2 linked regions of the Homo sapiens genome follow. The protein of the gene in region 1 purifies or fractionates together with the protein of each later gene. This does not show direct contact. Each region holds a gene or a part of one and is shown on either strand. Other genes may lie near its edges.

Evidence for each region. The genes of interacting proteins can lie anywhere in the genome.
Region 2: the proteins of LUC7L3 (region 1) and PHAX fractionate together in Homo sapiens (co-fractionation; one large-scale study listed by BioGRID). This does not show direct contact.

What each region holds. Positions count from the first base shown.
Region 1 is NC_000017.11:50,736,603-50,740,258, reverse strand, and holds part of LUC7L3 (luc7-like protein 3), read right to left. Parts: intron 3,300-3,656; coding exon 3,233-3,299; intron 2,901-3,232; exon of another isoform or gene 2,780-2,900; intron 2,151-2,779; exon of another isoform or gene 2,060-2,150; intron 1-2,059. UniProt on the Homo sapiens protein: Binds cAMP regulatory element DNA sequence. May play a role in RNA splicing.
Region 2 is NC_000005.10:126,614,426-126,618,081, reverse strand, and holds part of PHAX (phosphorylated adapter RNA export protein), read right to left. Parts: intron 833-3,656; coding exon 749-832; intron 1-748. UniProt on the Homo sapiens protein: A phosphoprotein adapter involved in the XPO1-mediated U snRNA export from the nucleus.

The DNA of each region.
Region 1 (3,656 bases):
CCTTTTCTTGCCAAAAAAAAAGAGTTATTTTTCTTTTTAAAAAGAAAAAGGATTCACTTTATCACTGAGTAGTTTGTAGACATCTAAACTGATCCTACTAAATCATGAAGCATCATAACCAAATAGGATATAAAATTGATCTGCTCAGTCTTCAAAGTCAATATAATGGACAGCAACCATATATGGTTAAAAGAGAAGTAAAGGAGGGAGGGAGAAAAGGAGGGAAGGTGAAAGGAAACTGTTCCTTATTGCCACTAAAGAAAACTGATGGGGACAGACCACTGAACTGAACCATTGCCGACTTTATTATTTTCAAATCTGTATATAAAGTCAAATAGCACTAGACTAGTACCTAACCCCTACTTCTTCCCACCTCTAAAAAGCAATTATCTTAACTCTTCTCTATTTCTTCCCGAATTTACCTCCACCTTTTAAAATTCTATGCTTATTTTGCTATTTATCAATCCTAGACATCAAAATTTTTGGATAAATAAACACTTGGTGCTTATATTATGCAAGTACTATTCACTGTCAGGCCAAACAAAGGCTCATTATGAGACACTTCTGATGTTTTCTGTTGTTGTTGTTGTTGTTTTGTTTTTTTTGAGATAGAGTCTTGCTCTGTCGCCCAGGCCGGAGTGCAGCGGCGCAATTTTGGCTCACCGCAACTTCTGCCCACCAGGTTCAAGGGATTCTCCTGCCTCAACCTTCCAAGGAGCTAGGATTACAGGCACCCACCACCATGCCTGCGTAATTTTTTTGTATTTTTAGTAGAGACAGGATTTCACCCTGTTGGGCAAGCTGTTCTTGAACTCCTCACCTCGAGTGATCTGCCCTCCTTTGCCTCCAAAAGTGCTGGGATTACAGGTGTGAGCCTAGTTTTTTCTCTATATTTTCAAATTCTTCTCAAACACTTCAAACTCAGCTATAGAAACTATCTCAATACTAATTTCACATATGACTCAAAATATATCACATCATCAGTTTCATTTTCTTCCATGGGCCTTCTGCCTTACTTCAATCTGGGATACTTATTTTCTAAGCTCACTATAGAATTATTGTCCTGATGAATTCCTTTTCTGCTCTGTAGTAGATGAGAATTACTGGATCTCTTGTTTTTTCTTTCCTCTTTCTCGGTTTATGGACATGTTTTGGTGGAGTTTCCTGAGAAAAGGCCCGTGGGAGATAAATCAGTTGAGACCCTGTATATCTGAAAATGTCTTTTTCCCCCTCCGGCAGACACATTTTCACTCAGCACCCTGAGGATGTTTCTCCAATGTCTTCAACTTCCCCCGTTGTTACTGACCAGTCTTAGGCCATTCTGATTCATAATTCTGTGACCTACACCCACCCCCACCACCCCCGTGTTCTAAAATTTCACAGGGGTATGCCTAGGTATGGATCTTTTTCATTCACTGTCCTGATCACTTGTAGGACCTGCTCAACCTAAAGATGAATGTCCTTTAGTACTGCAAATTTTTTTTCTTAAGCAATTCCCTCTGCTTTTATTCTGTCCACAACTATTAAGCTGGTAGTACAGTTCCTGGACTAAGTTTTTTAAAAATCCTTCTGTCGTACTGCCCAATATTCCAGTAAATTTCCTTAATTTTATTTTCAAATCTTTCTGGTGATTTTAGTTCTATTTCTTCAGTTTTAATTTCTAAGAGCTGTTTTTCAGAAAATGTTTTTCACTTTTTCCACAAGTTCCCTCTTTATGGCATCGTATTATTGCTGAAGAATATAGTGTCTTCTCATATGTCTCTGAAGATACTAAATTTCTTAAGATTTTGAAGAATCTCTCTTCTGCTTTCCCCATTATCTCCAATTCCACTAAATTCTTCTTTCTCTGTTGGTTTTGTTAATCTCTTGTGTTGAAGGCTTTCTTCGAACGTCTGGCTGGTGGTCCTTGGCAAGCAACTAATTTTTTAAAAAGACACTTCCAAAATCTGACTGGAAGTTAGTAGGGATTAGGCAGGGTTTGTCAGCTCATGAATGGGCTTTATCATAGGAAAATCAGGCAGTAAGACTTTCTTTTAAGAGATTCCCCAAGGGTCAGTACCTGCAGAGATCACTTCTCAGGAACTGTTCACTTTCTCTAGAGAAGAATCCTCTTTTCTTCTGCCTGGGGAAAAACATCTGGCTGTATCCTTCTAGGAACAGGGCAGAGGAGAGCCCCACCAATAAAAATATAGATTCATTTACTCTGTTTTACATTCTTTTTTTAACTTACTACTGCCCCTGCTGTGTCTGAAATCTCAAGATCTAGACTGGTCCTGCCTTAATATGCTCCTAATGCTCTAAGGCAAAGATTGTACATAATGAATTGACTTCTTTTATGTATCCAGAATGATCCTGGTTATGTACCATCCTTGAGAGAATTGAGGAAATAGTCAATTATTTTTTTCTATTTTGTGGTTCAGATAAACTAGTCTCTCTAGTCCAATTTCTCCAGAAAATAACCCTCTCTTCTCCTGGGGTCTATGGGGAGGAGAGTAAGATCAACAGATGCACAGGACCACCTACACTAGTGGCAATTTTGCATCCTGGGGGACATCTGGCAATGTCTGAAGACATTTTGGGGTGTCACAACAGGGGGTGCTACTGGTTATCTAGTGGGTAAAGGCCAGAGATGTTGCTAAACATCCCACAATGCATGAAAAGCCCCCTCCAAAACTGGCTCAAAATGTCAACAATGTCAAGGTTGAGAAACCCTGAACTAGACTACAGACTAATCTCTCTCATTTTCAGCCCCATGACTCAACCCTGCCTTCTGTGGTACCTGGTGCCTCCAAATCCTGAGCCTGTCCAGGGTTCTGCTGATCAAACACTCGCTTCTGTTTAGTATCCCCTTCTGCAGGCTTTTAGGGTACAGGTTGCTCTGCTCTGTTGCGTTTGCTGCTACTCCTCCATCCACTTGTCATCTTCCAAAAATTTGCTGACATCTCTAATGTTATCTCCTCTTCCAAATACATCTTTTTAAAATTTTTTTCATTTAAGTGGAGTTTTGGGAGGGAGTGGAAATAGACATGTATGTTTAATTAAGCCACCATGTTTAATCAGACTGACATTTATTAATACATTCAAATATCTAAACCAAGTAAGAAATTACTTATTAGCAAATCTTTAAGAAAAAACTTCACAGAATTATAATCAGTTTTTTTCCTTTCACCACTCCTATTCAACATTTTAAATATCATAAATTTGATAAAAGTTACACAGAAAATTCACTTACCAAGATCAGAACGTGTATTTGTGAACAATTCCGCAGGACAAAAACCACAGAGATAATATTTACAAACCTAGTAAAGAAAAACAAAGGTACTTAAAAAATTGCTTGGTTTTAAAACTTTATTGGAGAAAGGTGCCAAATAACTATTTTCTCATTTCTTGAGGTATGTATGTTTCAACCAATGTAAGAATTTCATTTGTTGAATCATATTAGGTAAATTAGTGATTTTCAGACTCCTGAATTTCGATAAAAGAATAAATCTGCAGTACTCGTATTACTAGTATTTTCTTTATCTATTTTTAATCATCACCTGCTGACCCCCCAGTAGCAAAAACAAATATGGGAAAGACATCCCAAAATAAAGGGCAATTTTTATATTTTTAAAAACTCTTACGCTATTCTTATCATTTCATCTCTTTCATAGATT
Region 2 (3,656 bases), on another chromosome or scaffold:
CTCTGGAGGCTGAGGTGGGAGGACTACTTGAGCCCAGGAGGCAGAGGCTGCAGTGAACAGAAATTGCGCCACTGCACTCCAGCCTGGGCAATAGAGCCAGGTCCTTAGACCCTGTCTCAAGGGGAAAAAAGAAAGAAAGAAATAGAGAAACAAATAAAAAGTGTATAGGTAAAGAAAGAATGGTTCATGCCTGTAATTGCAGCACTTTGGGAGACTGGGGCAGGAGGATTGCTTGAGCCGAGACGTACAAGACCAGCCTGGGCAACACAGCAAGACCCCGTCTCTACAAAGAATAAAAGGCTGGCTGGGAGCACTGGCTCACGCCTGTAATCCCAGCACTTTGTGGGGGCCGAGACGGGCGGACTGCTTGAGGTCAGGAGTTTGAGACCAGTCTGGCCAATATGGTGAAACCCCGTCTCTACTAAAAATACAAAAATCAGCCAGGCATGGTGGCATGTGCCTGTAATCCCAGCTACTTGGGAGGCTGAGGCACGAGAATCACTTGAACCCGGGAGGCGGAGGTTGCAGTGAGCTGAGATCATGCCACTACACTCCAGCCTGGGTGACAGAGTGAGACTCCGCCTCAAAAATAAATAAATAAATAAAAGGCATAAATGTTACTTAAGATAATAACAAAATCAGTCCACTGAAGGCAGAACAGGTAATGCATATCCATAGAAAATGAAGGTAGAGGGTGAGTAGAAGTCAAATTATGATGGCGCTTAAGAGGTGAGGACATTATCATTACCTTAATTTGTTCCTCGCTGATACTAGGAGTGTTTTTCAAGAGATTCAGAAAAACTCCACCTGGTGTTCTTCTTCGACTACCATTCTACAAAAAGGAACAGAAAAGGTAAACTGCATATACTCTTCCCATAAATGGTCAAGGCATCTTTTAACAGAGACACAATTAAGGGGATAGAAGAAATACCAGATCTGAAGTCCAGTCCTGATTCTGACTCTTACAAAATAGGTAACATGAGTAAATTACCGAAATATGAGTTTCAGTTTCTTCATCTATAAAATGAAGGCCAAAAATATTTGGTCTTTTTTAATTCTGAAATTCCGTGATTTAAAAAATCTATATGGTAACAAAGAGAAATAGGCCACTCAGCTCAAATGACCTAACAAATGACTGGATTTTCTGTTTTAATCTGCCACCTGGCTAAGTCAGTGAATATTCTTTTTTTTTTTTTTTTTTGAGATGGAGTTTCACTCTTTCGCTCAGGCTGGAGTGAAATGGCGCGATCTCGGCTCACTGCAGCCTCTGCCCTCCGGGGTTCAAGCGTTTCTCCTGCCTCAGCCTCCTGAGTAGCTGGGATTATAGGCACTCCCCACCACGCCTGGCGAATTTTTGTATTTTTAGTAGAAACGGGGTTTCGCCATGTTGGCCAGCCTGGTCTCAAACTCCTGACCTCAGGCGATCTGCCCGCCTCAGCCTCACAAAGTGCTAGGATTACAGGTGTGAGCCACCGCACCCACCATGAATATTCTATTAGATGTTAAAACACATCATAAACTCTAAATAATTAAAACAGTATGGTTCCAAAATAAAACTAGAATGATCAGTGAAGCAAAATAGAAAACCTAGAAAAAAAAGCCAAATATATATGGGTATTTAGTCTATGATACAGATACTATCTTAAATTGGAGAAGATAAATGTATTATTCAAGAATTGGCATTTGAGGCTGGGCGCAGTTGCTCACGCCTGTAATCCCAGCACTTTGGACGCCGAGGCGGGTGGATCACCTGAGGTCAGGAATTCAAGACTAGCCTGGTCAACAACATGGTGAAACCCTGTCTCTATCAAAAACACAAAAATTAGCTGGGCATGGTAGCACATATCTGTAATCCCAGCTACTTGGGAGGCTAAGGCAGGAGAATCACTTGAACCCAGGAGGTGGAGGTTGCAGTGAACCGAGACTGTGCCATTGCACTCTAGCCTGGACGACAAGAGCAAACCTCCATTTCATTTTTTTTTTTTTGAGACAAAGTCTCATGCAAACCTCTATTTCAAAAAAAAAAAAAAAAAAGTTGGTGGTTGAGCTACTGGGTAGCCACCATGGAAAATATTATGTTGGATTCACACCTCATGTCTTATACCAAGATATATTCCAAAGGGATCAAATATTTAAATGTATATATATAATAAATCAGATATATATACACACATACAGTGGCTTCTCAATAGTCATGGTAGTTACGTTTTATAAAGTTGCTGCAAACATTGAATTAGCAAATATTGAAACATTCCTTCTGAAAAATACAGGGTTAGGTTCCTGAAAGCCTCTGATAGACAACACTTTTGTCAACAGATCAGTATATAACCTTGTATGTATCTTGGTTTAAAGACACCTTATTGAAAACATATTGTTGATTCATTAACATTGAATTAGTGGCCAACAGCCTATAACTCATGCCTAAACGATGCTTATCTAACCATATTTTCTCTCTAACGCATGTCACAGTCTTCTTGCACTTAGAAACACTAGTTGGCACTACAGCACTACCCTTGGAGGGGCCATTTTAAACAGCAAAATCCCCAGAGGGGCGCAAAAAAAAAAAAAAAAAAGCACAGAATGTGAAAAAGATGGCACTAAAATAGACCTTGAAAAGAACACCTGTTTATAGTATGGAAGCTGAAACAAAGCAATGTTGCCCTGTTTGACCTCAGCTAAGCATGTGCATGTCGGACAACTCAAATTTTTTTAGACACTGCACATCTGTGAATGACTGTGAAACCACCACTAGTATTGATTTGAGGTTATGAATAACTTTTACCAGGTAGGCAAATTTGAAAATATAAAATCTACAAATAATGAGGATCGACTGAGCATGTATGTCATATACACATAGTCATATAAATTATGATATAACTATTCACTGGAATGCTAGCAACTGCAAAAAAGAATGAGGGGGCTCTCTACATACTTGATAAGGTTTCTAAGAGAAATTAAGTTAAAAAAAAAAAGCAAGGTATAGAATAGTATGCATAGTATATGACCATTTGTGTAAAAACAAGTGTGTTAGGGCCGGGTACGGTGGCTCACGCCTGTAATCCCAGCACTTTGGGAGGCCAAAGTGGGCAGATCATGAGGTCAGGAGTTTGAGACCAGCCTAACATGGTGAAACCTTGTTTCTATTAAAAATATAAAAATTAGCTGGGCGTGGTGGTGTGTGCCTGTAATCCCAGCTACTTCGGAGGCTGAGGCAGGAGAATCGCTTGAACCCGGGAGGCAGAGGTTGCAGTAAGCCGAGATCGCACCACTGCACTCTAGCCTGGGTGACAGAGCGAGACTCCATCTCAAAAAAAATAATGGGTGTTGGAGAGGAGTCTGGGTGGCTCAAGGATAGGTGTGGTCCGGGTAGCCTCTCACTACACACTCTTTTACTGATTTTTTATTGTGATAATAAAGACATGACAAAAAAATTTTGTCATCTTCACAATTTTTAAGTGTACAGTTCAGTAGTAAAGTATATTTACACGGTTATAAAACAGATCTCCAAAACTGTTTCATCTTGCAAATCTGAAACTCTGTACACATAAATTTCCCTTAGCCTCCTCCCTTTAGCCCTTGATACTCTTTCTTGTTTTACCATGTGAACTGGTTGCCTATTCAAATAACTGAATTTTTAAAAATAAGGAAATAGGTAC